Linked DNA regions of Homo sapiens. The protein of the gene in region 2 purifies or fractionates together with the protein of the main gene of each other region. This does not show direct contact. Each region holds a gene or a part of one and is shown on either strand. Other genes may lie near its edges. The genes, in order: PIP4K2A, ZNF428, MACROH2A1 and CIAO2A.

Region 1 (8,169 bases), on a different chromosome or scaffold from region 2:
GATCACACCACTGCACTCCAGCCTGGGTGACAGAGCCAGACCCTGTCTCAAAAAGAAATTTAACGTTTTGAAGATGAGAGCCCGTGAATTAACAGGCTTTTCCATATGGTTCTTTTTCCCCCGGTCTACAAACTGAAACCTGTTTAAATTGAAATCTTGATATTAAAAAAAGACTTCTACCATAATCAAAACATTGCCAGTTACAAATAACAGCTTCCATTATTTTGTGTGAGGCACCATATTTTTTCTCTCAGTTTCATTATCTTAATTCTTCGACACCCCTGTGAGGTGAGTGGCATTGTCCAATTTTAAAGTCAGAATGACTGAAGATCCAGGAGGCGAACTCGTCAAGCATGGAACTGGCGAGTGAGACCAAATCAGACTCTTTGTTTCTTGAATGGGTCTCCCTGGTCAGCATGACCTGTCCTTTTAACCACTGTGCCATATTTGGTTTTTCCCATTTCTACCTCAGTCTCAGAGACTTGAAATCATGAATAATAATCCCAGCAGTTTGGGAGGCCAAGGCAGGAGGATCACTTGAGGCCAGGTGTTTGAGACCAGCCTGGACAACACAGCAAGATCCTGTCTCCACACAAAATAAAAAATAATTAGCTGGGCATGGTGGTGCACCTCTGTAATCCAGCTCCTCGGGAGGGTGAGGCAGGAGGATTGCTTGAGCCCAGGAGTTCAAGGCTACAGTGATCTGTGATCATACCACTGTACTCCAGCCTGGGCAACAGAGCAAGATCCCATCTCTTAAACAAAAAGAAAACATGTGCAATGCCCATTGTGACTGCAATTTTCTCAGTCTTCTTGGGTGCCTCAGAACAGCTTCTTACCTAGAGATGCATTTTGCATCATGCTGATGGTTTTTGGGTTGTGCTAGGAGTTGACTGCACCTTTATTTCTTCCTCACTGGAAGACGACAGTAAGCGGTCTGACCACAGGCCTGAGGCCCAGGAAAATTACTCTGGGCTGCCCGGTGTGGCGAGGAACCCAGATGGGGTGCCAGGGGAGGCTGGGCCCTGGAGGCTCACCCTGGTGAGTGCGGCTGGCCAGTCCCAGTTGTCCCCTTCCCTCTCTGCCCTTTGGCAAGTTAATCACAGACAGCCCTGACTTCTGTAACTAAAACATACTTGAAGGTCAACCAGTAGACCTTCCTGTTAAGGTAATCGTCTTAAATGGTCACCTTGCGCTTCCTTTGCAGAGCTGTTGCCTCATGCAGTCTCAGACAAAAGTTTTCTGTTGTTGCTTTGTTGTTTGTATTTGGCTTTGGTAGTTACTTCCTGCTGGAAGCAGGTTGGGGAGAATTAGGGAGAGTTGGGACGGATAGGGAAGAAGTAACAAGCATCCCATTCACTTGTCCAACAAGTGCCGAATACTTTCCCGAGCCCTCTGCCTGCCGGGATTCGGGAATGCAGTGAAAGCCAAAACCTTAGAGCCCCGTTTGGGGCTGCCTTGCTTGGGAAAGAGAGAAGTCGCTCAAATACTCCAACAAAATGAATGTGCAGCGAGGCCCCGTGTCACTGGGGAGGAGTGTGCGGTGCCCTAAACACCCAGACTCTGGGGCTGTGCTGCCCTGTGCAGTGCCCCGCAGCTGAGACCTGAAGGCACAGGAGGAAGTACCTGCCCCCAGAGAAGCCCAGGAAGTGGGCAGAGCAGAGCTCAAGTGGGCCCCAGAAGTGGATGGGGCCAAGCTCTCCAGGCCTCCTGGGCCATGTGAGTTTTGTTTGTGCCCTGTGAGAAACGCGGCACTATGGAAATGTGTTAAGCAGAACAGGATGGGATCAGGTTCACATTTTGAAAACTTCTGCCCTTTGCAGAGGACTGGAGGGGTGGTTGAGGCACCACTCAGCCTTTACCACTTCACAGGGACCTTCCAAGCACCCAGAGGGAGCAGGTGTGGGCAGAAGGGGGGCCTTTTCCCTGTCACCTCTCAAGCCGAGCAGGGCCTGGCCTGGCTCCAGAGAGGCTTCCAGGTGTAGAGAGAGAGGCCAGGGAAGCCGTAGATCTAGGGAGCAGAGCCAGGCACCGTGCTAGGCTTGGGAGGGGCAGCAGAGGTGGCCAAGGAGACCCTGACCCAGTCCTCCAGCAGCCCAGAGGCCTTGGAACAACAGGGCAGGGAGAAGTGGGCCCACCATAAGCACCCCCACCCCCACCATACCCCTCAAGCATTGGAGAAGACAACTGGGTACTTACAATGCAGTATTTTTCAAATAGGCTTCTGAAACCCCAGGCCCACAGGTCATTCTGACGGGAAAGCAGGTTCCATGATCACAGCAGTGCCATGTGTGCTGCTGCTGGCCACCTAACCCTCCGGAGACCCACAGCGCAGAGTCATGTGTGGAGGGCCTCCGATGCCAGCTGATTTTAACTCGTTACCTTCCTCCTAGGGTTGCGAAGAAAAGGAGAGGGGAAAGCTGCTTTAAGGCAGCCTCCAGAGGTAGCTGATAGAGAGCAGAGAGTACAGGCTCAGAACAGGCCCTGAATTCACCCCTCCTTGGATCTGAATCCTTGCACTCTCGTCCAGCTGCTGAGCCTGGCTGCTGTCTCACACGGAGAGCCTGCCCCCTGCCTTGGATCTTGTCACCTGTCCCTATACCCCGGAGTGCCCAGTTCTCTTCCACATCCACAGGCCCATGTATAGCGGAGCTGGTACCCGAGACCCAGCTCCCTGGCTGGCTTCACCGTGCGGGTGGAGGACTCAAGTGAGCCTTCCACCACTGTAGATTTCTCCCCGCAGCCGCCCCCACAAACATGATCCCAGCCAGGTGATCTCGGCCAGGTGCACCTCACAGCCTGGCAGCTGCCGAGATTCTAGGGGAGGATGCGCAGTCTCTGACTGCTGGAAAGGAATCTGGCAGAGAGAGGTGCAAGTGGAAAGTCAGTTCTCATGTTTACTGTAATGGGGGAGTTTGGGGAAAGACCAGGGGGGATGAGCAGTGGCTTCCCCTCTTCTCTGGGACCCAGAAAGCTGAACGCAGGAGCCCCATGCTGTTTCCACGAGGGGTTTGCCTCTATTTTTAAACAAACAGGTTTCTCCCACTTTGCTTAAATATTTGAGTGTAAGATTTGTGTGATTTCTCTTTTTTGAGCTCAAAACAATTGGGGAAGATATAGCTGGCCCTGGGGGATTCCTGTTGGGAAGGCAGCGAAGTGGGAGCTCTGGCCAGTTTGCTGGGCTGAGCGGGGTGCTGGCTGATGGAGAATTGCAGGCACCAGGAACCAGCTGGAGAGTGGGATAGCCCTGTGCCCAGGGGTCCTCTCCTCGTCTGTAAGGAATCGGGGCTTCTCATTCAGTTTCGAGACAGAACTCCTTCCCAGCAGGCTGAGGAGAAATGACTCTGCGGGGCTTAGCAAATTGATTTCATTTTTAGCCAGAACTTCAAGACCTGTGATTTTATCTGTTTGCCCTTTGCATGAGGACATCTGCTTCCTAAATTCTATCAGCATAGCCCAGAGGCTGCTCAGCCACTCTGCATTCCCCAGCGAGGTGGCACTGAGTCCTTCCAGAGCCAGGACCGTGAACCTTCCTGGACCCTGAGCCCAAGGTCGGAGTGGAACAGGATCCTGTGCAGAGCCAGCCAGCCACGGGGTCAGGGAGCCAGTTGGGTCCAGCCCGCAGATGGGCTGCCACTGTTTGCACTCAGCACAACCATCCACATCTTATGGCAACATTGGAACGTTGTGCTGAAGGTCTCAAATAAGAAAAGGGAAACAAAGAGAAATCGTGATCTGAAAAGTCAAAGAACTGGGCAGACAGGAGTAGCCAAACACACAGAGCTGGGTCTTGCCCCCACATTATGTTCTAGCCACGGCTGGAGGAGGAGAGGGAGGACAGGAATCCTGGATGTGTGGTGCTTCGTGGAAAGCACACGTGGAAAGCACCTTGTTGACCTGGACAGGACTGCATTACTCACCAGATGTGGACACAGTGCCTTTACTTTTACTTATTTACAACAGCGTAACAATCGCCTCCACAGAGCATGCTGAATTCCAGGGTGCTTTCCTGAACTACCACCAGAGACTCCGCTGGAAGCTACTTGGGAGATGCCTGGGTTTCCCCATTAGCCAGTCTTAATCATTGGGAGGAACTTGCTCTCTCTCCCAGTCTCTCTCCGCATCTCTTACTGGTCATGCTCCTTGCTATCTGGTGAAATCCAGCCACCCTGTGATAGATACACACCTCTCCGCATCCAGTGTGGCATTCCAGGGTAAACAGCCTGAGCTCTGAGCCAGCCTGAAGTGTGAGGCTACATTTTAGATAGAGAAACAGCCCAGGAGTGTAAGAGCATCGTGAAGGAGGCACCCGGCGCCTCTGCTGCCCCACCCCACAGCCTTCCCTCTGGGTGTCACCCGAGCTTGTCTCCTTTAAATGTTGGCTTTTATGTTTAAGGTGTGGCTGACTCACCCTGTTGCCTCTGTCCCCAGTTTCTGGCCCAGCTGAAGCTCATGGACTACAGTCTGCTGGTGGGAATTCATGATGTGGAGAGAGCCGAACAGGAGGAAGTGGAGTGTGAGGAGAACGATGGGGAGGAGGAGGGCGAGAGCGATGGCACCCACCCGGTGGGAACCCCCCCAGATAGCCCCGGGAATACACTGAACAGCTCACCACCCCTGGCTCCCGGGGAGTTCGATCCGAACATCGACGTCTATGGAATTAAGTGCCATGAAAGTAAGTTTGATTACTGTGGACCCTTTTTGCATGTGAAGTGGTTTGACTTTGGCCTTGTTATCTACCAGTAAGCACTACCCCAGTTATGAGGGTGCTGCCCGGCAGCACTCATCCTCCAAACTCCAAAGAAATGGATTTGGGGACAAGAGTATGTTAAAGCTAACCGTGATCTCAGTGCTGAAACATAAGGCGATCGGACCTTTGAATTCTGTGATGTTGAGGGAATACAGCAAAACCACGAACTATACTATACATGTACAACACACCTGTACATATGCACATACACACTGGCATACAACGTACGTGCACACACAACACAACATGCATGTACATATGCACACATACATGTTCACAAATAACATCAGAAATGCTTTAAAATATTAATACGTTTTTGCCTAGTTATCTTTTTTATCTAAGTCAAAAGCATCATGAGTCTAAGCTAGGCACATGCATGTGATCCTCTGTGACCCTTAGCTTGTCCTCTTGTCATTACCAACAGCCCTCTCCCTCTCAGGGGTGTGAAGGGTGTGTGAAGATGGGCCCTGTGGGTGGGGTGGGAATCTGATTTGCTGCTGAGTCTGGCTCTGCTGTCCTCCCCCATGGAAGGGCCTATGGCCCTCTTCCCTAGAGTCAGATAAATCTTAATCCACCGTATCCAGGTGATTGGGTGCACCAGTTATTTGAATATTACATCCTACCTTAGCAACTTATCCGTGACAATACCAAAATATTTTTGTGATAGGATAAAAACAGCTTCTTGGTTTTTGAATAATAAAAACTGTGGCTCATCAGTTGTTTTTTAATCTCAAATGGCATATCAGCTGAGGATCTGAGTTCTGTTTTGTTCTGTTTTGCTCACCAAAATGTTTTCTTCAACACAGAAAATTAGATAGTCAAATGTACTTTTCTTACTGTTCATATTTTTGGAAATGGATAGAAAACAGACACGGGCCGGGCGCAGTGGTTCATGCCTGTAATCCCAGCACTTTGGGAGGCCGCGGCAGGCAGATCACCTGAGGTCATGAGTTTGAGACCAGCCTGACCTACATGGAGAAACCCCATCTCTACTAAAAATATGAAATTAGCTGGGCATAGTGATGCATGCCTGTAATCCCGGCTACTCGGCAGGCTGAGGCAGGAGTCACTTGAACTCGGGAGGTGGAGGTTGCTGTGAGCCAAGATCGCACCATTGCACTCCAGCCTGGGCAACAAGAACAAAACTCTGTCTCAAAAAAAGAAAATAGACATTGGAGTGGATGTATGCCTTTATCCAGTTCTGATACTGTATCCAGTGAGAATTATGAACAGTTCTACCATTTGATGTAAAGGATTAGTGTACATAATTAGTTCTGTTTTATAGGGTATTTTTAAATAGCATATTTCTTCACACCAAAGCAATACACAATTATTAAAGAAAATGCAAATTAAAAAAAAAAAAAGACTCCGTTCCACCGTTGGATCTCCACTGTTGATACCCTGGTGTGATGATGTTTTTAGTTGTTAGGGTTGTTTCTTTTTAAATTGCAGGGGGACTGGGTCAGAGAGGCAAGCTGTGTGTTTAGTCAGGATCCGCAGGGGTGGTGTAGAGTTTGTCTCTGGACTCCTTCCATCCGCGTTCCATTGAATCCCCTCCCTCCAGGCTCACTTCTCCCTCCCTCCCTCCCTCAGCAGCAATGCTGGCACTGGTGTTGTCACATGTCCCACAGTCATTGCTCTCCTGTCTCTGCAGACTCGCCTAGGAAGGAGGTGTACTTCATGGCAATTATTGACATCCTTACTCATTATGATGCAAAAAAGAAAGCTGCCCATGCTGCAAAAACTGTTAAACATGGCGTGAGTATCTCCATTTTGTTTCCTTCTCTCTTTCTCTCCCTCTCTCTCTCTCTCTCTCCCTCTCTCTCTCTCTCTCTCTCTCTCCTGGCTCCTCTGTGTGACCTGTAACTCAGGGATCACTCCTTTCTGCCACTGAGCTGCTTTCTACTGAGCCATTCAAAGCCCTTTAGTGACGCTTGTTCCCTGGGGGCAAGTCATGTTCTGAGCGTAAGATACAGAACCCACAAACGCTTACTGCTCACTGCTGCTCTTACCACAGCTCCCTGTGGCTTCCAGCGAAGTCACTTAAACATGAACATCTCTTCTTTTTACACATGGCGGACACTAACAGGCATGCGCATCACTAGGATGTTACACAAATTCTTTTTTGTTTGAAAAATGTTCCAGAGATAAAAGTGCAAAAGAAGATAATGAAGTGTTCTAATATGAAATATTCAAAACTGAAGCATGATTGTCTGCTTAAGACACTTCCCAAGTATACAGGATTAATATTTCTTTTCTCACAGTGAGTTGTATTTTTTCTACTACAGAAATCTCTTGAGTGCAAAATCAAAGTTGCATAATATTACTCACCGTTAATGTTGCTTGATGGGAGTTTTCACTGCTCTAGCCATATGTTAAGCTATTTTATCCCCCATGAGAAGCCTATGAAAGAGATAGTAGTGTACCTGCTTTTGTCAGTTGGAGAAACTGAGGAAAATAGCTTCAGGAGTAACTTGCCAGGGCCTCATAGTAGCAAGTGGCAGAGATGAGATTCCTCCCCCGGACCCAGCCCCCTCCTGGCTCTGTGTTCATGCTCATCCCCTTGCCCTGCCTGCAAACACCTCCTGCCTGGCTGAACTTTACAGCTCGCCAAGTTTCAGGCTTGTATTGCAGGGTGCCATCTTTGTTTTGCAGAGGTCCTGAAAGCCATAGAGCCCACCCCACACAGATGAATGTATTCCCTGGTTTGTTGGCCCTGGAAGAAGAGGTGCTTCCCACAGACTGTGTAGAACTAATGAAGATTCACCAGAACCAAAAACTCACTTGAAACCTCTTCTTTTCTATTTTAAAATAGAAATCAGCCTAACAAACACAGTATTCTATTTGCCAAAGAAATATTTCAGTCACATTGTCGATAGCTATGGTATTCCTGCTGTGTGCAGAGCACAGACTGGGACCTCACCGCCCCCGAGCACGTCAGTAAGCAAGTGTGCCTGGTGGCTTCCCCCCAACAGAAATTTTTGAGTACTCTTTTTAAACAAACATCCGCACCAGGTGCACCACCCCCATTCCGTCATTTCTGAGGCCAGTTCAGGAGGGTGAGGGAGGGGTCTTCAGAAGACTCCATGGTCATTCTGATGCTCACCTCTGGTTGAAAACCATGGAGTGTGGCAAAGAGAGAACTGGCGAGGAATCCTCGTTTGACCCTTCCCACTTGTATGACCTCAAGGGGACACTTTTGGAGCTCCTGTTTTTTCACCTCATACAGAAATCCTACTGCCTTGCTGATGGGGTTTTGCCAGAGATACAAGAGTTGTCTGGACAAATGCTTTGTAAATGTCTGTTCCCATATTATACATCCTGTGAAATTGGAGTGTATCCTAGCCAATATGGCTCCATGTTCATCTCTCCTATCCTAGCCAATATGGCTCCATGTTCATCTCCCCATAAGCCACAAG
Region 2 (7,898 bases):
GGATTCTGTGTCTTTGTGTCATAACTTTGATGGGGGCAGTGAGGGAGACAGCCCCAACCCTTTTCTCCAATCCCCCTTCCCCAGGTTCCTGGGCTCCCCTTCTCTCTACCTTCTCCCCCAACGTCTGTCCCATCCATATTTGTCTCTCTGTCCACCCACTCCTGGGGGGGCCTTCCCCATCTCTCCTCCAGGCCCCCCGGGGAGGGGGAAAGGAGTTTGGGGAGGATTCGTGGTCTTCATGGTTTTATATATAATATATTAAAAAATCAAAAGTCTGTATGAAAATATCAGATTGCACCCCCCTCTCCCCATTCCTGGCTTTTGCCCCCTTTTTCTTGTTAAAAAACAAAAAACAAAAAACAAAAAACCACACACACATTTTGTACGGGGTGGGGAGGGGAATGGGGAGGGGGTTTGGCAATCTCACTAACCACCATTAAACTGAGGAGAGAACAAGTGTTTGGGGTGGCTGTGTGTCTGTCCTGCTGTCAAGGGCTGTACCATTGGGAGGGGAACTAAGGGAGAGGGGAGGGAGGAGTGTGATGGTTGCTGGTGGACAGTATAGGCCAGGAGAAGGTCCTGACCTCACTGAGGGTACCTCGACCTCCCCAGAAACCTGGGTTTGGCCATTTCTTCAGCCAAATAGTCACAGTCTTGTCTTTTTGATAGCGACTGAGCTACCCCATTCCATGGCCCGGACCCTTACCCTGGCTTCCCCCTACCCCAGACATTAGTCTCCAAGGGAACTTTGAATTAAAGTTAAACTCTCAAAACCTTTGCCTAGCTCCCCATCACCTTTAGACCAAGTCAAAGCTCTTTAGTCTGGCATCCCAGGCCTCTCATTCATTCATGTACATTTTAGATGTATTATTCTAACTTTAAAAAATAACCTCTTACGATGTGCCAGGTGCTGCTCAAAGTTCTAGAGTCCATGGTGAATAAAACAGGCAAATGTTAAGTGTTAAAGACAGCGCTACACTAATCTGAAATCTGATCCTGCTCTAAGCATTGAGAACCCAAAGTGAAAAAGGGCGACTCCATTCTTACCCTCATGAAGCTTTCATGAGGAAAACACTCAAAACAAGGAAGCAAAGAAAGTTCAGATTGTGATAAGAACTATTAATATAAATGCAGAGTATGGTGATGTGGTATGCCATTGTCATTATGGAAAACTTCAAACCCACAGGAGTAGACAGGACAATAACGTCCCATGTACTCTTTTTTTTGAGACCAAGTCTCGCTCTGTCGCCCAGGCTGGAGTGCAGTAGCGCCATCTCGGATCACTGCAAGCTCCGCCTCCCGTGTTCACGCCATTCTCCTGCCTCAGCCTCCCGAGTAGCTGGGACTACAGGCGCCTGCCACCACGCCCGGCTAATTTTTTTTTTTTTTTTTTTGTATTTTTAGTAGAAATGGTCTAGGATGGCCAGGATGGTCTCGATCTTCTGACGTGATCCGCCCGCCTCGGCCTCCCAAAGTGCTGGGATTACAGGCGAGACCCAGAGTCTCGCTGGGTGGCCCAGGCTGGAGTGCAGTGGCTCAATCTCGACTCAATGCAACCTCTGCCTCCAGGGTTCAAGTGATCTTCGTGCCTCAGCCTCCCAAGTAGCAAGGATTACAGGCACCCCCCATAACCCCTGGCTAATTTTTGTAGTTTTAATAGAGGCAGGGTTTCACCATGTTGCCCAGGCTGGTCTCAAGCTCCTGACCTCAGGTGATACACCAGCCTCGGCCTCCCAAAGTGCTGGGATTACGGGCGTGAGCCACCGCGCCCAGCCCCATGTACTCTTCATGCCAGTTACAACCACCACCAACTCATGGCCAATCCCGATTTATCCATAACTCCAGTCAAATGTGTAAGTGCTATTATGGAGAGATCAGGAAAAGCCTCTCAGATTGACATCTGTACCAAGATATGAATGGTGAGCACAAGAGTAGGTATTCAAAGGTCAGAGGGAAAAGCATTTTCAGGCGGAGGGAACGGCAAGAGCAGAGGCCCGAGCTGGTAAAGAGTTTGGGGTAAGGTGGAGCTGGACAGAAATGGAGGGAGGAGGAAGTAGGTGGGGTCAGAAAGATAAGCACGGCCAGACCAGGTGTATAGCCCTGAGGCCATGATAAAGATTTTTGGATTTTTTTTTTTTCCTAATGGGATCCCTTTGGGGGAGTTTTAAGCCAGAATGTGACAAAGTCACTTACAGGAAGACTGGAATGTAGCCATAGTTGAACTCTAACATCGTCTATAGAACCATTTCCCGTCTCCAGTTAGGTTCTAGGCATACTAAGCTGCTCTTGCTTCCTCAATCAAAACATGCGCTTCTATTTTTTTTTTTTTTTTTTTGGCCTCTGGGCCTTGGCGCTTGCAGTTCATTCTGCCAGACCCATTCCCATTCTAGTTGGCTCCTATTCGTACTTGGCTTAAGGATCACCACCTCCTGGAAGTCTTTCTAGAACCAGAGGCCGGGGCAAGCGCCTCTTAGGCTCCCACAGCCCCCTGTGTTCCTCACTCCAGGTCTGACCTTCTGGGTAGTAGTTGTCTAATTAGGTGCGTATCTCCTTCGACTGGGGTGCCGTGAGTACAGGAGTATGGTTCACTGCAGAAACCACAGAATCCGCCAGCATGGGGCCTGACACCTAGGAGATCAATAAACCTTTATCCTGGTTGGGAGGGGTCCTGGCCCTCGTGCCCTCTCTCAGGATGCAAACTGATCCCCTACGAAGACAAGGCTACCCACTTCGCGTCAGTCTGCAGTCCCTGCGCGCATGCGCTTTGCTCAGGTTGCCCCCGCCATATGCTAATCACTGCGCTCTGGAGTAAGGCCCCTCCGGGGAATATGCAAATCACTCCTTCCAGTGCGGGAGGCCTTTCATTGTCCCGCGCTAGGATTATGCAAATAAGCAGGCCTCGGGCCCAGGATCCAGTCCGAACTAGCGCCCTCCACCCCCAGCGCATCCCAGTTTTGTAAGGCGCGTTCCTGCCCCGCACACGCACGCGCGAACCCTTCAGCTTCTTGTTCCTTTGGGCCGCGGGCTGTACCAAGTAAACCCAGGCAGCGAGGGGCAAAGCACGGCGCCCCCCGCGCGGGTCTCGTCGACGGCCCGACGCGCATAGCCCCTCTTCCCACAGCGCTACAGGACTAGTCCGTCTCGCCGCGCAAGCGCCCTAGGCTCTTCACGCCCCCTGCGCGCTGTCCTACCCTACTTGCGACGCAGGCGCAGAGGCTGGGCGTGCAGCCGCCGCCGCAGAGCCGGAGCGGGGGCCGCCGGCGCCGGTGAGTGTCCCGGGCAGGGGTGCGCGAGGCATGCCGGGAAGCGGGCGCTACGGCCCCGCTGCATGATGGGAGCGACGACTCCCGTCACCGGGGAGCCGGCGGTCTGGGGCCGTGGTGACCCGAGGGCTTCTTTTTCTCCCCCTACGCGTTTGTGCCGCCCTGGGGCATCCTGGGAGAACCGAGCGCTCCGCCTTGAAGCGCTGTGGGAGTCGGTCCGCTAGTCGTAGGCCTGGTGCATCCTGGGAAAGAGTGTCCCAGATCCTTGTCGAGACCGGTTCCTTTTATCCCACACCTGCCGCTGACCGTCCTGGAGGCTTGGAGCGCTTCCACACGGGGAGTCTGGGAAGGTGGTCGCTATAGGCCTAAGGCATCCTGGGAAGAACTGCCACAACGAATTGTGGGAACTGGCCGTTATTGTCCCGTAGTGGAAGGTTTTGCCCTGGTCTCTTTGCTCGAGCATTGGAACGGGTGCCTATTGTGTTCACGCGGGGCATCTTGGGAATTGACTGCTATAGGCCCAGGGCATTGTGGGGTCTCCAGCACTGTGTTTGCCTTTCAGTTTGGCTGCCATAGGCGTGGTAGGAGTGGGACTTGTGAACCAAGGGATGGCCCTACCTGACGTCTGGAATACTCTGGAAGGGGCCTTGTGTGACGTGGGCTTGGAAAAGTGTAGGCTGATGGGCATTGTCTCCTGGTAACTTCAGGGAATGTCTTGATTGTCCCAGGTGTGTGGTTGCCGTATAAAATATACAATGTCTAGTTAAATTTGAATTTCAGATAAACAATTATATCCAAAAGATACAACCTTTTAGAAAAGTATGTCCCAAATATCACATGGAACATAGCTATATTAATTCTTTGGGCTAGTTGCAGTGATACCAATACTTTGGGAGGCTAAGGCAGGAGGATCGCTTGAGACCAGGAGTTCAAGACCAGCCTGGGCAATATAGTGAGACCCCCGTCTCTACAAAAAAAAAAAAAAAAAAAAAAAGTAAAAATTAAGCCTGGCATGGTGGCGCATACCTGTAGTCCCAGCTGCTCTCCTAGGGGCTAGTAGGGTACCTTGAGCACAGGAGTTTGAGGTTACAGTGAGCTAACCTCCCAACCTGGTTATGGGGGAGTACATGAGTTAAGGCCTGGAAGCCCCTTTCCTACAGATCACCCTACTGCACTCCAGCCTGGGCAACTGAGCGAGACCCTGTCTCTTAAAAAATATAAATAAGTAGGCTGGGCGCGGTGGCTCACGCCTGTAATCCCAGCACTTTGGGAGGCCGAGGCGGGTGGATCACGAGGTCAGGAGATCGAGATCATCCTGGCTAACACGGTGAAACCCCATCTCTACTAAAAATACAAAAAATAGTCGGGCGTGGTGGCAGGCGCCTGTAGTCCCAGCTACTCGGAAGGCTGAGGCAGGAGAATGGCGTGAACCCAGGAGGCGGAGCTTGCAGTGAGCCGAGATCGTGCCACTGCACTCCAGCCTGGGCGACAGAGCAAGACTCCGTCTCAAAAAAAAAAAAAAAAAAAAAAAAAAAGCCGGGCATGGTGGCACGCGCCTGTAGTCCCAGCTACTTGGGAGGCTGGGGCAGGATAATCGCTTGAACCCAGGAGGCAGAGGTTGCAGTGAGCCGAGATCGCGCTACTGCGCTCCAACCTGGGCGACAGAGTGACACTCCGTCCCAAAAAAGAAAATTAAATAAATAAATAAATAAGGGCCAGGTGTGGTAGCTCATGCCTGTAATCCCAGCACTTTGGGAAGTGGGAGGCCAAGGCAGGAGGATTGTTTGAGCCAGGAATTTGACAGCAGCCTTCGCAACATAGTGAGACACCATCTCCGCAACAAAAACCCAAAAACAAACAAAAAAATTAATTGGATGTCTTCTGTTTTTATTTGCTAAATCTGGCAATCTTATCTTGGTATAAAGTAGAATTCCCAAATTAGATGGGGCCCTGTAGGCAATAGGGTATCATTAGAATTCTCCTCTGCCAATTATGAAATCTGTCTTTAAAAGCCAAGATTTAGGTGCTTTCTTTAGGAAGTTGCCCTGCCAATGATGCCAATGGTCCTTTGCCCCAGCCACCTCCAGGTTTCAATCTGAAGCTTTTCTCTTTAGTCCCCAGCATTAAACTTGACATCCAGACTTTGAAGGGACCATGTATTTTCCACCATTGTATCCCCAGTGCATGGGCCTTGGCATGTAAGAGATATAGCTGAGGCTGCATCAACTGGCCCTGCTTGGTTCTCTACTGTCAGGGAGTACAGTGGAAGACAGTAGTGGTGTGTGTGTGTGGTGGGGTTGGTGGGGGGCGGGGGCGGTCCGTTGGTGAAGAGGGAGAGAGAGAAGTCACAGAAGGCTTCCTGGCAGAGGCAGTATTTCAGCGGGCAAGAAGTATAGAGGTTCTTATGTTTGTGGTGGGCTTTGAAGGGTGAAAAGGAGTTCTCCAGGCCAAAAAGGGGGAAGGAGGGCTGGGCGTGGTGGCTCTTGCCTGTAATCCCAGCACTCTGGGAGGCCAAGGTAAATGGATCACCTGAGGTCAGGAGTTTGAGACCAGCCTGGCTGACATAATGAAACCCTGTCTCTACTAAAAATACCAAAAAATTAGCCGGGCATGGTGGTGGTGGCTGCCTGTAATCCCAGCTACTAGGGAGGCTGATGCAGGGTAGAGGTTGCAGTGAGCTGAGATCGCGCTACTGTACTCCAGCCTGGGCAACAAAGTGAGACTCCATCTCAAAAAAAAAAAAAAAAAGGAGGAGGAGGACATTCTTGACAGCAACAGTGGGTGTACTAAGACCCACAGATGTGAAAAGGCCTTGTGTGCACAGGGAGAGATGAGAGGTCTGGAACATCTGGAGTTTATAGAGGGGCAGGGGTGGGAGTAGTAATGGCCACTCTTGATGGAATACCAGCCACACACCAGCAATTTCTATCAGTGAGCCTACTGAATCTTCAGAAAAACCTTTTGAGCTGAGAAATCATTTTATGAAAGGTCTGGCTTCCAATCCTAGTTCATCCACTTACCAGATGGTGACCTTGGGCTACTCACTTATCACCTCTGTGTCTGTTTCCTCATCTGTACAAAGGAGATAATTCCCAGTCTAGTTATGGGGAGTACGTGAGTTAAGGCCTGGAAGCCCCTTTCTTCCAGAGAAGGAAACAGGCTAGAGAAGTTAAGTTCTTTGCTTGGTGCTACACAGCTAGAGTGTGGCAAACCTAGACACTATCTTGCCAATTGATACAGAACTAAGGCTGATAATCACAAACTAGTATAGCCATACCAATTGTTTAAATATTAAAATACTTCCAGATGGGTTGGTGTGTCACTGCTACACAAGTACTCCCTGTCCCTAACTGCCACTTTGGACCCCCCTTGTGGTATTATATATATAAATATATTGGTTTTCATCCACAGTTCCTGGCTGGTAACTCCTACAGCCTTTGTTACAGTCTCTTGTTATAATGTTGTGTACCTTAGGCCTGGGGCAGGTCTGAAGAAACAGAATCTCTCTGACCTCCTCCTGCCCTCCATTTCCTGCCCCAGGGCAAGACTCTAATCTTCCCCACCTTCTTGATTGTTGGTCTTAAGACACTTTTCAGAGAAGTCCATGCCCAATGCTGCTGTCTTAAAGCCTCCGTAAAAACCCAAGAGGACTGGGTTTGGAGAGCTTCCGCATAGCTAACCACCTGAGGGTTCCTGTAGGGTAGCACCCCAGGGAGGGCGTGAAGCTCCCTGCCCCTTCCCTTATACCTTGCCCTACACATCTCTTCATCTTTGTTCTTTGCAATATCCTCTATAATAAACCAGTAAATCTAAGTAAGCATTTCCTTGAGTTCTGTGAGCAGCTCCAGCAAAAATTTTTTTTTTGTAAGATGGGTCATCCAGGCTTGAGTGCAGTGGCAAGGTCACGGCTCACTGCAGCCTTGACCTTCCAGGCTCAATTTATCCTCCTGCCTCAGCCTCTCAGGTAGCTGGGACTATAAGCACATGCCACCACACCGGCTAACTTTTGTAATTTTTTTTTTTTTTTTAGAGACAAGTTTGCCATGTTGCCTAGGCTGGTGTCAAACTCCTGAGCTCAGGTGATCTGCCCACCTCGGCCTCCCAAAGTGCTGGGATTACAGGCATGGGTCACTGCGCCCGGCCTTATTTTTATTTTTTTAAAAAAGTCGGGTGTGGTGGCTCACGCCTGTAATCCCAGCACTTTGGAGGGCTGAAGTGGGCAGATTGCTTGAGCTCTGGGCAACATGGTGAAACCCTGTCTCTTCCAAAAATACAAAAATTAGCTGGGTGTGGGGACAGCGTTGGAATGGAATCGGAGGGGACACCTAGCTGTTGTCTGCTGTGTAGTGTGTGGGGAAAAAGCCCCACACATTTGGTCACAGAATTCTGTGTTGATGATTGTTGTGATAGTGTGAGAGTAGAGGAAAAACACAGTTTGAGGGTTTTTTTTCCCCATAACACTTCCCCAACCCCAGACCTCCCCATGGTCCAGCAACTAAAGGGTTAAGGCCTGGTATCCGTCCCGCTCCACTCTCAGTTCTGATTGGTGCCCACACCAGTCCCCACTGTTGAATATTTGGAGTGTCACCTCTCCCTACCCCACTGAATAAGAACCAGAAGGCAGCCTTGTTGCCC
Region 3 (8,169 bases), on a different chromosome or scaffold from region 2:
CACCCGGGAGCTGCTGTGAGCAGAGTTGTACTTGGTGAGGCCCCCGCCGGCCCGCGAGTTGCCGGCCCCGGCACAATAAGTCGGGCCCGAGCCCCGGGGGGCCGAGGTGTAGGCGTCTGGCTCGCTATCTGCAGGGAGGGGAAGGCGGGGGCTACTCGCGGGATTGAAGCCGGGCTGGTGCGGGGGACCGGGTTGGGGAGTGGTCCAAGGATGGGCTGGAGAGGGGCCACGGGAACCCCCGCTGCTCCCGATTGTCTCGGTATCAGCCTTTTGTTTGCTTTGTGGTAGGAAGGGTTTGCTTTTTTTAAAAGGTAACTCCGGAAGGCTGTAGGCTTCCCCGGGTGGAGAAGGCCAGCAGGAAAGAGCCTCGCTGGGGGTGGGGTGGAGTGGGGAGGTGAGTGTGCAGGATGCTGCTGGCAGTGTCACCTGACAACAGGTGTGCGACATGGCGCTCCCTACCCCCACTCCTGCAGGGGCCACAGATCACTCAAGGAGTTGGTCAGTACATTGCTTGAAAGGTTCTTTTAGACAAGATGTTAGGGGAAATGTTTCTGAGTTTCAAAGTGAGAGACTTCTGTACAAACAACTGGGACAAACCTTGAATTCAACAATTACAATGACTATAAAGGCCTTGTAAGATTTTAATGACCCAGTAAACAGCACATAAGAATAGACAATTAGAGGGGGCACTCCTGCTAGCTTCCCTCTTTTCTTCCACCTTTGTGGTTTGAGGTTTTACCGTTAAAGTAGGGGGTAAGGGAAGTGTTTTGTTCCAAAGCTCCCTGCTCCAGGGAGTCGGGCATTTTTTAACAGTCTTAGGTTTGAATGGGAGACTCGAGTTGTAAATTAGGTGGAATTCACCTACTGCAGGCCACCTTTAGGCTACTAGCCTGTTGTCAGAGGTGTTAACTCTGAAATGGACACCTCTTGCCTGCAACTGGAATTAATACCCATTGTACACATTTAACTAGAGTTGGGCAGCAGCATCTCAGTCTTGCACAAGAGACTCTCTGATGAGGATGAGTATGTTTTCAAACTTATTTTTTCTTAAACACAACAAAACTCTTGAAAGACTTCAAATTCTTCCCCCTTCTAGTTTTACAAGGAGAGAGAAATCTTTCCAGTCTGTTCTTTGGCTTCGATCTGTCACCATTGTTAATGCTGATCCCTAGATAAGGCATTAAGAGGGTTGTCTAAATGAAAATTGTTTGAGGCAGGCCTTTAGAAGGAGGCATAATTTAACTCACATTTTATTAAACTTTAAGAATTGTCTGGAACTTCACATGTGACATTCTAGTATACAACCATGCCACTGGTTTAGTTTTTACCAAATGGGCCAGTGTCAGGGAGTGACACATCTCCATCTGATGTTTCTTCTGGTCCCTGAGAGAGGCGAACTTGAGGAGCGCCTCGCATTCCTTCCCCACTGAGAAGCTCAGAGGGCATGTGTTCTGGGACCTGCCTTCAGAGCTAATGCGGCCCCAAGTCACCTAAAGGAGATTTATTTAAATAAAAGCATAAACTGAAAACCTCAAGCCGAAGAACCCAACAAGACTCTATATGTGTTGTTCATCAGAACTGCAACAGCCTCTGGTTTTATTTGAGTGTCCCCAAGGATTTGTGACAGCCTTTTCAGAGCCCCATTCCTAGAACATGGGCTGGGAAGGGGCAGGAGTGATTGGGGCCCAGATCTCTGTGGGTCCTTCCCATATTCTGTAGGTTTAGAGGTCTTTTGGGCCCTGCCTCAGTGCTTACAAGTGAGCCTGAGTGAGTCAACTCTTCATTCCAAAGAGTTGTATAGCTTGTTTGCTTGGACCAAACCTGTCAGGTCAGTGTCTCAGAGTCTTTCCATAAAGATTTCCTGAGAATCAGCTCCTGTTCAGGCACTGGGGACACAGCCGTGATTAAGAAATGCCTAGCCCCTACCTTGGGGGAGCTGACTTTGGGAGAAGGCAGGCAAGTAGCTGTTGTAAAATCAGTGCAAAAGGCCCCACGTAGCCCCCCAGCAGGTACAGTAACCTAGCCAGGAGTGAGCCCTTATCTGGCTTGGAAAGGTCAAGCAGGAGATGGCTGGGCAAAGGAGGGCAGATGGGGACAAGTGTTTGAGGCCTGGGGAACCCCATGTGTGCATCTTAGAAGAAAAGAACAGAGGTCATGTGGGGAACTGCCAGAGGCTCGGGATGGCTGAGTCCTGGTGCGGAGTCAGGTGAGGCTTCAGGGAGGGACAAACAGGACAAATCACAAAGGATTCTGGTCAGACCCACACTTTATCCTAAGAGCAACTGAAGGGTTTTGAGCAGGAGAGAGACAGGATCAGGTGTTCTTTTTATTCTTATTGGGAACACGTCTACTCGGCAAATAATGAGTGGATTCTACATGCTAAGCCTTATCAGAGTCCTGTCCTGTGAAGCCCACACTTTAACTTTTCTCTAAATAGCCTTCCGTGAGACTGGTTATCTTAAGAGTTTGGCACAACCTTTAAAAGAGAGAGGAGTATGTAGAAAAGTTTTTTTGTAAAGCAGGCAGGCAGTAACTTGCTGTTAAAATGTAGCAAGCTGCACAGTTCCTTCAGTGCATCTCGGGAAGCGCATCACCGAATGGGTTTGCAGAGGTGAAATTTCAATCCCAGACTAGCTTCCCCAAAACTGTTTCTTGCTTGTGGTAAATGACATTTGTGTTTGTGTTTTGTTTCTTCCTGCCACTGAAAACATAACAGGAGTAAGACACATCTGCTGGAACAAAATGCATGGTTTATGATTTATTTACTATCTCAGTTGGTCTGTCTCTTCTGTTTGCAGTCCCCTAGTTCACTGAGAGTGGACTGTAGGTTCTTTAATCATCTGGCTCACTTTTTGATATGGTGTTTTATGAATGGAGAGAGATATTTTTCCTGATTGGCTAGAATACTAGAACAGGTCTCTGATCCAAGCCAATCAGAGTGCAGCTTGTGAACCCCAGCTCTGTGAGCAATGGTTGTCTAGTATATCCACATGCCTCTGGGGACATGACAGCGGGTGACACCGTTAATCATTTGGTGTGATAGGAGTAAACGGAAGAGGGAAGAGAATGCTGTAAACAGGATTAGTGTCTTGTCCTTCAGAATTAAGTTTCTCAGGTTGGCCTTTGTGATTGGAGTTGATGGGAAGGTGACAAATGCATGTGGATATGCGGGCATTTATCCAGCTGCCAGAATGGATGGCGTGGTTCTTCCTCATCAGCAGTTATTTGAGCACTGATAGCTCAGACTCCTCTATCCTCAGGGGCTGGAGATAGGGCTCTTTGACTAGCAACTCCCCAGCAGTTCTAATCAATATTGCATGGGATCAATAGGCATGTATTCATTGCTTAGATAATAAAATACTTCATGATTGACTATTCCAGCGGTTTCATGAGTGCCCTGATTGTTTAAGGGGTTTCTGTGCTGTAGCTTAAACAGGAGTCAATCTCTTATAGATGTGAGGAAGGTTAAGTATTTTCCTGCAGTCTATGGTACTGAGCCAGAGGCAGGAGGAGAGGTCACTGGAACCATAGAACTGTCACAGAGTCATAAGGCCTCAGTGTGCCTTATGCCCAGCTATCAGGGCAATTGGAGTGTTCCTTTCCTGAGAATCCCCAAGGTAGCTCTACAAGCTCCCTGAATTTTGAGTGTCTGGGCTCCTATAGGGATTTTGCCAGGTGTATGTACATGAATGTCCAAGAGAAGGTCTCTGATTGGTGTCCCACTAGCCATAGCTCCCAGTCCTGTGGGCTTTGGAAATGCTGCCCTCTCCTTTCTCCCTATCCACTGTCAGTGCCAACTAATCAGCTACCTTGTAGCTGGCATGTGCATGTCTACCGGGTGCCAGGCAGGGTGGTGGGTGCTTGGAGATACAGTGGTGAGTAGAGCAAATTGGTTCGTTTCATCAAGACAGACAGGTAAATAGGCAATGATGATACCATGCACTGAGTGCTAAGAATGGGATAGCTGGTTTCAGAACTTATATGTAAATGGGATCTAGAGTGACTGGCAATCATGATGGAAGGAAGGGCTGGAAACTGCATTTGCAGAGTACTGTATATAAGACTAAGAAAAATAATTGAGTATATTAAAGAATAGGGGCAGCCTGAGGGAGATTGTGAGGCACTTTTAGCTGGGCCCTGGGTCTGCAGCTGCCACATCCATTGAGGGAACTGGGAGGGAGAAATTCATCCCGGTGGATCTCTGGTTGTTGCAAATAGAGAGATGTGTTGGAGGTCAACAGGGCCTGTGCACAAGGTTGGAGTCTGGACATGCAGCTGCCCCAAACTAGACTGTGACTGACAGAAGGCATGGCCATGGCAGGAATGCAGAAGAGGGAGCACATTGATGGATCATTGCCAGGGAAGGTATTGGGACCAGTAGGCAGGATTACTCCAGACAAAGGGCTAGAGAGATGTTCAGACTGAGCATGCTGGGTGTGCTGAAGGTGCCAGTGGGAATGAAGGTGGTTTGCAGTGCAGGGAGCAGCCTGTTAGGATGCCTGCTGGGAAGGGATAGGAGGGTGTGGCAGGGCCTCCATGGCACTTTGGTTCTTTGCCCCTACTGCCCCTCCTAGTAGTACACAGCTTGTTGTTCTCATGTCCACCTTATTCATGGGGTCTACATAGCCAGCCTTCTAATTAGTCCTGTGCTAAAAGAACTGACTGCGTTGCTCCAGTCGCATCTCGATTGCTGAGGGGCCTGTGGTCAGACTCTGTTGCTTCTCACTGTAGCCTGACTCATCTCTCCATCCAGCTCCTCTATAAAAGTTTGTCTTTGGGTAAGCTTTGAGGTTTTATAAACAAAGTTAATGTTTATTGTGATTTATAATTGGAAGAGTTGCAGAAATAAAGACCACAGAGATCCCTTCAAGATCAATCACAGAACCTTCATTTTCTAGGCCAATAACAGCCAAAAGGGCAGTCAAGCTAATGTGCAATGATGAACAGACACAGTTGCCTGAGGACCTATCATTGTTTTCAAAGCATGCAGAGCCATGAGTGAAGCCTCCTGGTTTACTGAAGGAAGGAAGAACACATCTTTGTCAAGTTTGACCAGATAGTATAGCTGTTCTCCTGTGACCAGCTTCACTGCCCTGCAGAGGTGATGAGTGCTTAGGAAGCTGCTTTGTCTATGATGTAGGGCTGTCTGTTTCTCAAACAAGGCTGGATGCAGAACATGGGTCAAACAGGGCCCAACAGGTTTTGGGTGGTAACTCATTCTGGGGTTAGGGTCAGCGTTCAGATTGGTTTATCATGTGACAGAGACTGGCTGTTTCCTCTTTTCTTCTGAGTAAATAGCCAGAGTACATTTCCCAACCTCTCTTGCAATTAGTTGTGGGCATGTGACTAAGTTCTAGTTGATGGATCATGGTCAGAAGTGATGTGCCCCATTTGCAGGCCTGGCCCCTTAAAACCCTCATAGGTTATTATCCATGGTCTTTTTCTTTCCATGGCAACCCTGGGAATCATGTATTGAAGATGTGAGAGTAACAAGATGGGAGGCATCTGGATCCATGAATCACTATGTGGACAAGAAACACCAGCCAATCATGGAAACCCATTTTGGATTTTTCGGGAGTGAGAAATAAGTTGTAGAGACTTATCTGTTACAGCAGCTAGCAATGTCTTCAGCGCAAATGTCCAAGATCTGTTCTGCAAGAAGATGGCCTTTTTTCATCTTATTCACATTATTGTTTTTGTTAACTACTGAGAACTTGCCCAGTGAGTGAGTATCAGGCCCTTACATGGATGCTTTGATTCACTTCTGCCACCAACTCTTTGAGGCCCTTACTAGCATCATCTCCACTTGAAAGATAAGAAAATAGGTTCAGAGGGGTTAAATCACTTGCTCAAAAATGCACAGCCAGTAAGCGGCAGAGCCATGGTTATAATCAGGTCAGTCTGGCTTTGGACTTCTAGTTTTTAATTATAATGCTTAATTGCCATTGGCCTCACAGTCACTCTCCCCCTTGTCATGGGTGCCTGACTGGAGCTACCCACACCTGCATAAACCTCTGAAGAGCAGGATGGACCTGGCACATTCATGGGTTTATCTGGAGACTGCACAACTATGAGTTGGTTTTCAAAAGGGTGTTTTGAAAACCACCACACATTGCTGGATGTCATAAGGCTTCATGGCTTAGTCAGAATTCTTTCATAGCTGTGGCTGCAGCTTGGGGAACTATAGTTAGAAGTGCAGGAAGAACATGGGGAGGGATAAAGTACAGAATCTCTGCAAGACAACCCCATTGGTGGGGAGACAGACTTGAGGCCGCTTTATTGGACAGGAGCCTGACTCAGAATGAGAAGTGAAGATGTTCTTCTGCCAGCAGGGTGGCACTGGAGGAGCTGTGATATTTCAGACCTTTCTTGGGATGAGTTGACTACAGTGCTTCACATCGAATGGCTTGCAGTTCAGTCAAGTTGGAGAGGCATGTGCTGGGATATATATACTATGGGAACATGGAGCAGTGAGCAATTCCAGGCTGTGGTCATGTCCACAAAGCCTCCATGGCAGAGGGAGGCTGTGAGTGTCAGTTCAGCAAGTTGACAAGAGGACAAAGGGCATTCCAGGCAGGAGAACTGCGTGTTCAGAGACATCCTTAACACAGTGTGACAGGCTCAAGAAGTCAGGGGTGGCCTGAGGCATGTGAGCCAGGGCTGGGGTGACAGGAAGCAGTGCCACCAAAAGTAGCTGAAGTATGCTGTTTGTGGCTAGCTCAGAAGCTCAGGCTGACAGGGAATCATCAGAGTAGGCAGAGCTGCTTCTGGTGTCCATGGATGAAGACTGGTGCGGTTGAGAATAGGTCAGAAGTAAAGAGGCTGAACCAACGCAGGGAGGGTGATGAGAAGAGGCCTGAGAGGTTCTGCAGGCGGTTCAGCAGAGCTTGGCTAATGCTTGGGTGCTGTGGGGTGGACAGAGAAGTCTGGGCCAGGTTCACTGCTGTTTGGCTAGTTTGGTGCATGACATTGCCACTGATGAGGCTGAGAGACCCAGAGGAGTTCAAGGCACCCATGGGACTTGTAAGTGGGCCCTTGCCATCAGCAGTCAGAACAGAGCTCTGAGGCTCAGCGGCCAGGTGTTGCACTGGCATAGAGACCTGGGAGTCACTGGCATGTTGATGTAAAGACTCAGCTAGAGTCAGAGGAGGGAAAGACAAGGAGCACCACTTTTAAGGAGTCAGCGTGTCTAGGACCTGCCAGGTCTCTGAGTGCTAACGGATCCTTTCTGGAGGAGACCACTGTCCAGTTCCCACATAGGCAGCCCCAGACATGCCCAGCAGGTCAGCTGGGAAACAAAGCTGAAGTCTGTGCTCTAGTAGGAAAAGGGCTGAGCTGCTGTTAATCATCACTGACCACAGGCCTCCCCTGCTGAAAGGGGGAGACATTCCGATTTAAAAGCTCAGTCCAAAGGCATCAGGTTGTTGGTCTGTGAAACACATTTGTAGTAAAGCAAAAGACTGCTAGGAAACCCAATGACAGCCTTGCCTGAAAACACAGGCACACATACATATACACATATCATTTCCTGCTCAGAGTGAGCACAGGCACCTTTTTGCAAGGAATGTTTTAAAATGGAGTTCATTGCAGCAAGGAAGGGATCCAACTAATTGTTTTGGAAAAACCCAGACCCTTCTGGGTCTCTCTAGCCCTCAGTGAGCAGTTAAGACTGGGTGCTCCTTGACAGGGCGCTCATGACAGAGGCCTTTACTCTTCTAACATCACTCCAGAGCCAGGGCCTCTGCCATCTTACCTCTGTTGGGCCTGTCTACACAGTAGCCCCAGAGTGCCCAGAATTCTGTTTTCTGTCCTCACAGCCATCTCTGTGGCTCATCCCAGATGATTTGAGATGCACCTGGGATTAGAGAGGTGTTAAGTGTGGACCGTGGCATGTCCTGACAATGTCCCTAGTATAGGTTGAGCATCAGAGTAACAGGGACTCCTATCCCTGTGGCCTCCAGTGGTCACAGCATTGACTGCTGGTGCTGGAAGGCCCCAAACACCATGGAGTGTGACGTCAGTTTATCAGTACATGGGAGACCTGCCCAGTTGGTTCAGTGAGCAAACATGTTCATAGGGAAGACTTTAGGGGGCCCCAGAACAGGCCAAGGCCCCTCATATCCCCTCTCCCAGCACCCTGCACTGGCCCTTTGAAGCATGCATTACGTT
Region 4 (7,056 bases), on a different chromosome or scaffold from region 2:
GCCATGTTGGCCAGTTTGGTCTTGAACTCCTGACTTCAGGTGATACACCCGCCTTAGCCTCCCAAAGTGCTGGGATCACAGGCATGAGCCACCATGCCTGACCAGCTAGCTGTCAGCTTCTTGAAGTCAAGATTCATATATGATACATCTCTGTGTTCCTGCTATGATCTTATACATATTTGGAGCTCAATAAATACGTCTTAAATTGAGTAAATTAATAAATTATTATACTAGTGGTTTATGATGCCCTGTAAATTTTATTTTTCATTTTTAACTGTTTTAATTACAATGTTTAACTTTTTATTTGAAATGAAAATAATGAAAGAAAAGAAATAAAATAGTGAAGAATAGTACAAAGAAATTCCATATATCCTTCACCCAGATTCAGATTCACTAATTGTTAACATTTTGCCACATTTGGTTTATCATTAATTTCTCTCTATATATGTACACACACATACACATATTTTCTGGAAATGTTTGAGTGCATTTGTAATGCCCCCTTACTCTAAATACTATAGGATGTATTTCCTGAAAACAAGGACATTCTCTTACATTACCACAGTATAAATTTCTAAACCAGGACATTGATACAGTACTGTCATCTCATCTACAGCACGTATTCCAATGGGTAACATCCTTCATGGCGGTCCCTCCTCCTGGCTCTGCTCCTCTCCCCCATCATACATTGCATTAGTTGCCATGTCTCTTTAGTCTCATTTAATTTAGAGTAGTTCCTTAGCCTTTATTTCATGATCTTGATATTTTTGAAGAATGTAAACCAGATATTTTATAGATTGTCCCTCAAATTGAGTTTTCTGATGTTTCCTGGTTAGATTCAGTTTGTGCATTTTTGGCAAGAATACTGAATAAATGTGTTCTCATTGCATCACATCAGAGGCCTATAAATTCAGTTTGTCCCATTATTGGTAACAGCTCCCCTCATCAATTGGTTACCCTGAAGTATAGTTCATATAGGAATAGCTGCATAAATGCTGCCTTTTCCCCTTTATCACTTTTAGAATAATGAGTCCTGTGTAATTTTAAACTGAAGTAAGTCAGTATAGAGTGATTCTATACCTGTTGCTTTGAGGTCTAGAATAAGAGTGTTTTGCTACTAGGAGAAAGGTGTTTTGTTTTGTTTTGTTTTGTTTTGTTGAGACGGAGTCTCGCTCTGTCACCCAGGCTGGAGTGCAGTGGCGCAGTCTCAGCTCACTGTAACCTCCACCTCCCGGGTTCAAGGGATTCTCCTGCCTCAGCCTCCTGAGTAGCTGGTAATACACGCCCGGCTAATTTTTTGTATTTTTAGTAGAGTTGGGGTTTTACTGTGTTAGCCAGGATGGTCTCGATCTCCTGACCTCGTGATCCGCCTGCCTCGGCCTCCCAAATTGCTGGGATTACAGGCATGAGCCACCACGCCCGGCTTGTTTTGTTTTTTAAAAAAAATTGGGGCCAGGTGCAGTGGCTCACGCCTATAATCTCTGTACTTTGGGAGGCCTAGATGGGCGGATCACTTAACCTCAGGAATTCAAGACCAGCTTGGGCAATATGGCGATACGCGGTCTCTACAAAAAAATAGAGACGAGGGAGGAGAGGGGTGGGAGTGTGGGAGCTGAGGTGGGAGGATCACCTGAGCCCAGGAAGTCGAGGCTGTAGTGAGACATGATCGCGCCACTGCACTCCAGCCTAGGCGACAGAGTAAGACCTGTCTCAAAAAAAAAAAAAAAAAAAAGATTGGACTAGATGACCTTTAAGGTCCCTTTTAACTATAATAAGTTATGATTTTTCTCACTCATGAGAAATGTTTATCTCCGTAGTAAATAAGTAAATAAAAATTAGTTCATATGTTCCAGTGTTCTCTGGAAAGTAGACGTCTTTATTACAGCATACTCTCTTTACCACAGGATTTGCAATAATTTTGTAGGTTGTCTTAAAAGCTCTGGGTCTTGGAGGGTAGCTCATGTCTATAGGTGCAGCAGGGCCAGGAGGGATAGCTTAACCAGTATTATACTTGAGAATAAATTTAGCATGATAATAATGAATGAGAAAAGAAGGATGCTGAAAACTATATTGTGATCCCATTTTTGTAAAACAAGCAATGTGAAGAAACTTCCAACCCTGATATGTGGGTGTGTGTGTGTGTAAAATCTGTGTAAGATTATGTGGGTAAAGAGAAGAATATGGAAGAAACCACACTAGATTGTTATTGTAGATTTCCTGAGTCAGTAGCAGGGCAGGAGGAAGTTTAGATACCGAGTTGGGAAGAAGTAGAGTGCAGAAAAGAGATATTCTTAAGTAAAACCACACATATGAGATCTCATTTGTGTAAAATGATATTTTTGTGTATTCATAAAAAAATTAATGGAAATACCACCTGCAGGCCTTTTCCAGGTGAACAAAATAAAAAATCCTACTCATTTCAGTCCTTTTTTTTTTTAGAGAAGGATGTGGGGGATTTGTCCCTATGTCTCTGATGTTAGAAACAGGATTTGGGGGGCGCTGGGCGCAGTGGCTCACGCCTGTAATCCCAACACTTTGGGAAGCCGAGGCGGATCACCTGAGGTCAGGAGTTTGAGACCAGTCTGGCCAACATGGCGAAACCCCATCTCTACTAAAAAAAAAAAATAATAATACAAAACTTAGCTGGGTGTGGTGGCGTCTGCCTGTAATTCCAGCTATTGGGAGGCTGAGGTAGGAGAATTGCTTGAACCCAGGAGGCGGAGGTTGCAGTGAGCCGAGATCATGCCACTGCACTCCAGCCTGGGCAACAGGGTGAGACTCCATCTCAAAAAAAAAAAAAAAGAAACAGGATTTGGGCACTCATCCCTAGATGTTTGAATTTACTGTACATTCCACTTCACTCTCTTATCTTAGAATGCATTAATGTTTTTTCTTTTACTTTTTTTCCCACTTTCCAGTTGGAAATCTACATTTCTGAAGGAACCCACTCAACAGAAGAAGACAGTAAGTGAATGTTGAAACATAATTGAAAAACAACTTCAGATAGTATTTTATCTTGGATACTGGATTCTTCTGCCAGCCAAGAATCTACTGGGTTACTTTCAAAAAAGTGCACAATTGGTTATTGGCTCTTCCTTCCTAGGTGAGGAAACCTAGGCATTTCAAAGAAGTAATTTTTGCAGTGGACTCCGAGTGCACTAGAGCCCACGGATGTTGACTGGTTTAGGCCAGTGGCTACACATCTGTAAAGAATATCCAGTGCTGGGGACCTTGACTTATGAGCTCTAAGTAGGCTTCTTTTCTTTGGTGACAGGATAGAGAGCTGTGTACTTGAAATTGAAGGTCTAGCAAGTAGAGCTTTAGTGAATCTTGGGGTAGGTGCTGTCTCTCTGGGTTAGTATATTAGAATGGGAGTGGGGAACCTTTTTTATATAGAGGACCTCTGGCCTACAGAGAGAAATCAATCAGTAGCTACTTAAAAATAGCAGAAGTGGGGTTTGGGAAAAGCAAAAAACAAAATGTTCTGTATGATCCCTGTGTTACATTAAAAACATAATTTTAATGTTTTTAATCTACAAATGATAGAGTGCAAATAATGAGAAATACATTTAAAAGGCATGTTGTACTTAAGTTTCATCACTAAGTAAATTGAGAAGGTGGGAAAAAATAGCAGAGGAATGGAAGAAAGAGCTAATAGAGGAAGAGCAACAGTGAGATAGATACCAAGAAGACTCAGAAAGGCATACACAGGGCTGGAGAGAGACACACAAAATCTCCTACATAAAAGAGAGCTATAGAGAGGGAAGCCTGCTGCTTCCAGAGGAACAGCCTATCCAGGAAACTTTTTAGGTACTGTCATGAAAACTGTTAAAAACCATGCCCTATTTATAGTTCTAGACATGTAGATTATTATACTCTTTGTGGGCTGAATTTCTTTAAACCCCACGAGCTGAGGGCTTCTACCTGTAATTTAGAAAAATAAGAGTTTAGGTACCCTAAATCCACTCAGGTTATCGTTTTGAAATTCCTTGAATGATAGGATTTTACAGCAGCAATAGTATTAAGTCTTATGAGTCTTGTTTTTCATTTAGTAAGTATTTATTAAGTGCCTTCTATGTGTGGGTACAGTTCAGCCTTTGAGATACATTCCTGCCTTTGTGGAGCCTACATTGTAGTAGGAAGAAACCAAATTGAAAGTATTTTCGCAGGAATATGTGTATGTTTGTGTGTCTTCTACATGAGACATTTCAGCGGCAGCCCAGAAAACTCAATCCACATTAAGAATATAGTCGTCTCTCTTTTGAACTCTTCTATTAAGAATGCTGTTAGCTAATTACAGAAAACATAATGGGCCAATACCTTTATTATATGAAGATCCATTCAAACTAATTTTAAAAAAAGATCTAGTAGATTAATAGAGACATGAACAGGAAATTCATGCAAGAAGAACTAATATATGCACATGGAAAATGTTCTATTTTCCTATTAGTCAAGGAAATGCAAATTATGACAATAATATTGAGCCGTTTTCCATCTCCTGTTTTATGTATGTATATATGTGTATTTGTTTTTATTAAATAATACCAGCTATTGCCCGGGCATGGTGGTTCACACCTGTAACCCTAGCACTTTGGGAGGCCAAGGCGAGAGAATGCCTTGAGGGAAGGAGTTTGAGGCCAGGATTTCAAGACTAGCCTGGGCAACATGGTGAGACCCTGTCTCTACGAAAATATTTGAAAATTAGCCAGGTGTGGTGGTTCATGCCTGTGGGAGGCTGAGGTAGGAGGATCTCTTGAGCCCAGGAGTTGGAGGTTACAGTGAGCTATGATTGCACCACTGCACTCCAGCCTGGATGACAGAGCAGGACCCTGTCTCAAAGAATAATAATAACAATGATAATAATACCAGGTATTGTTGCCAAACTGATAGCTCATGTATTGGTGTTGACAATATAAACTGGTGAGTAATTTTAGGAAGTAAATCAATGATATGAATCACACCATAAAAATATTCATACTCTTAAAAATAATCCCATTTTTGAGAATATTTCCAAAAAGAAGGCTATATGTTTAAAGGTATTCATTGTAGCATAGTCTTCATAATTACTTTAGAACACTTAAGACTTTTACCATGTTAAATAACCCTGTAGTTTAAAATATAGGCTTATGGGGGAAAAAATAGCAATTTTCAAAATTATATTTACTCTGAATGTAACTGTATAAAAATATGTGTATGGACAAAGACTGGAAAGAAAAAAATAGATGTGGTTAAGTAGTAGAATTCTAGTAGATATTTTTCTCTTAAGTCTGCCTTCTAGATGGGAAATTACATTATGAGTAATTAGCCAAAAACAGGTTTAAGTTCTCAAGGAGTTAAAGTTTTTGTTTCAGCAGGCTAATAAAAATACTGTCTGGTGCTGTATATTGACACAGTTCTTCTGCTAACTTTTGTCTGTGTATTTTTCAGTCAATAAGCAGATAAATGACAAAGAGCGAGTGGCAGCTGCAATGGAAAACCCCAACTTACGGGAAATTGTGGAACAGTGTGTCCTTGAACCTGACTGATAGCTGTTTTAAGAGCCACTGGCCTGTAATTGTTTGATATATTTGTTTAAACTCTTTGTATAATGTCAGAGACTCATGTTTAATACATAGGTGATTTGTACCTCAGAGTATTTTTTAAAGGATTCTTTCCAAGCGAGATTTAATTATAAGGTAGTACCTAATTTGTTCAATGTATAACATTCTCAGGATTTGTAACACTTAAATGATCAGACAGAATAATATTTTCTAGTTATTATGTGCAAGATGAGTTGCTATTTTTCTGATGCTCATTCTGATACAACTATTTTTCGTGTCAAATATCTACTGTGCCCAAATGTACTCAATTTAAATCATTACTCTGTAAAATAAATAAGCAGATGATTCTTATAATGACTCACTGTTTTTATTGAATTGTAAATTCCAGTGTAAATGTCAACTCCTAAAGGATATCTTCAAAGCTTTATTTTTGCTGATTATTTTGTAGAATCAGAGATCTGAGAACCAAAAGGAACCCTTAAGATTGGGCCTTCCTTCCTTCCAAGGAGAGTCCTGGACCCTTTCATAGATAAGGAACAAATGTGGAGAAGGCTAGATGGCATACACAATTTTGAAGATCAAGAAGTCCACCAAAGAAGTTTTGATTAAACCAACCTAAATGTATGGTCCGCACTTTATCTGTCCTTCATTTGGTTTGTTTTAGGGGTTAATGGTCATGTGAAGTATAGTAGCCTCCAACATGGCCCCCAAGATCCTCACTTCCTGGTATTCATGCCCTTGTATAGTTAACTTCCATATTGAATTGGAGCTGATGGGTGTGGCTAATAAAGAATGGCAGAGTGACAATGGGTGACTTCTGAGGCTAGATCATAAAAGGTATTGCTGTTTTCACCTTAGGCTCTTGGATTGCTTATTCTGTAGGAATCCAGCTGCTATGTCACGAGAACTCAAGCCACCCTGTGGAGAATTCCACACGGAGTGCAGCTGAGGCCTCCCAACAACAACCAGCAGCAATTTGCAAACCATGTGAGTGAACTCCTGATGCAGAACTGCCTAGCTCCCAAAGTCTGGACCCAGGCACTGTCTTGGGTGCCAAGGACACAAAGATACATCAGCCATTGTCTGTCCTCCTGGAGTTCATACTTATTAGCCTGGACCTTCAGCTTCTCTCTGCTCCAGGCAGTGAGTGATTCGGACTCAGTTTTATCTACTGCCTGAGCTCGTCCTGGCCAAGTAGAAACAGAAGCCGGGCAGCAGGTCCAAAGACAAAACCATGCCTTAGGGACTGTCTGGTGAGGACACTACTGACATGCAACTCCAAGTGGATCATTGCTACAGGAGTCACCTGAACTGCTGGCCCTGCTGCTCCTGGAAGCTAGATGTGACTTCTGTTGTCTCCGCTACTGCCAGAGTGATTTCTCATTTTTGTGTGACTCACTCCAGCTTCCTAGTCCTAGCTGAGATCTCTAGTCGGCTGATCTCAAGTCACATGTCCATGTCCTGGCTGCCAAGAAGGCGGGAGAAAAGAAAATCTGACCTTTGGTGTGGGGAGGTG

The links.
Region 1: the proteins of ZNF428 (region 2) and PIP4K2A purify together in Homo sapiens (affinity purification with mass spectrometry; 2 studies listed by BioGRID and IntAct, with this or other methods). This does not show direct contact.
Region 3: the proteins of ZNF428 (region 2) and MACROH2A1 purify together in Homo sapiens (affinity purification with mass spectrometry; one large-scale study listed by BioGRID and IntAct). This does not show direct contact.
Region 4: the proteins of ZNF428 (region 2) and CIAO2A purify together in Homo sapiens (co-immunoprecipitation; one large-scale study listed by IntAct). This does not show direct contact.

Annotation. Positions count from the first base shown.
Region 1 is NC_000010.11:22,538,310-22,546,478, reverse strand, and holds part of PIP4K2A (phosphatidylinositol 5-phosphate 4-kinase type-2 alpha), read left to right. Parts: intron 1-4,431; coding exon 4,432-4,675; intron 4,676-6,404; coding exon 6,405-6,508; intron 6,509-8,169. UniProt on the Homo sapiens protein: Catalyzes the phosphorylation of phosphatidylinositol 5-phosphate (PtdIns5P) on the fourth hydroxyl of the myo-inositol ring, to form phosphatidylinositol 4,5-bisphosphate (PtdIns(4,5)P2). Has both ATP- and GTP-dependent kinase activities.
Region 2 is NC_000019.10:43,614,926-43,622,823, reverse strand, and holds the start of ZNF428 (zinc finger protein 428), read left to right. Parts: upstream 1-3,194; 5' UTR 3,195-3,266; exon of another isoform or gene 3,267-3,763; intron 3,764-3,825; exon of another isoform or gene 3,826-3,991; intron 3,992-7,898.
Region 3 is NC_000005.10:135,390,497-135,398,665, reverse strand, and holds part of MACROH2A1 (core histone macro-H2A.1), read left to right. Parts: intron 1-8,169. UniProt on the Homo sapiens protein: Variant histone H2A which replaces conventional H2A in a subset of nucleosomes where it represses transcription. Nucleosomes wrap and compact DNA into chromatin, limiting DNA accessibility to the cellular machineries which require DNA as a template.
Region 4 is NC_000015.10:64,071,400-64,078,455, reverse strand, and holds the end of CIAO2A (cytosolic iron-sulfur assembly component 2A), read left to right. Parts: intron 1-2,918; coding exon 2,919-2,964; exon of another isoform or gene 2,965-5,427; coding exon 5,428-5,525; 3' UTR 5,526-5,891; downstream 5,892-7,056. UniProt on the Homo sapiens protein: Component of the cytosolic iron-sulfur protein assembly (CIA) complex, a multiprotein complex that mediates the incorporation of iron-sulfur cluster into extramitochondrial Fe/S proteins.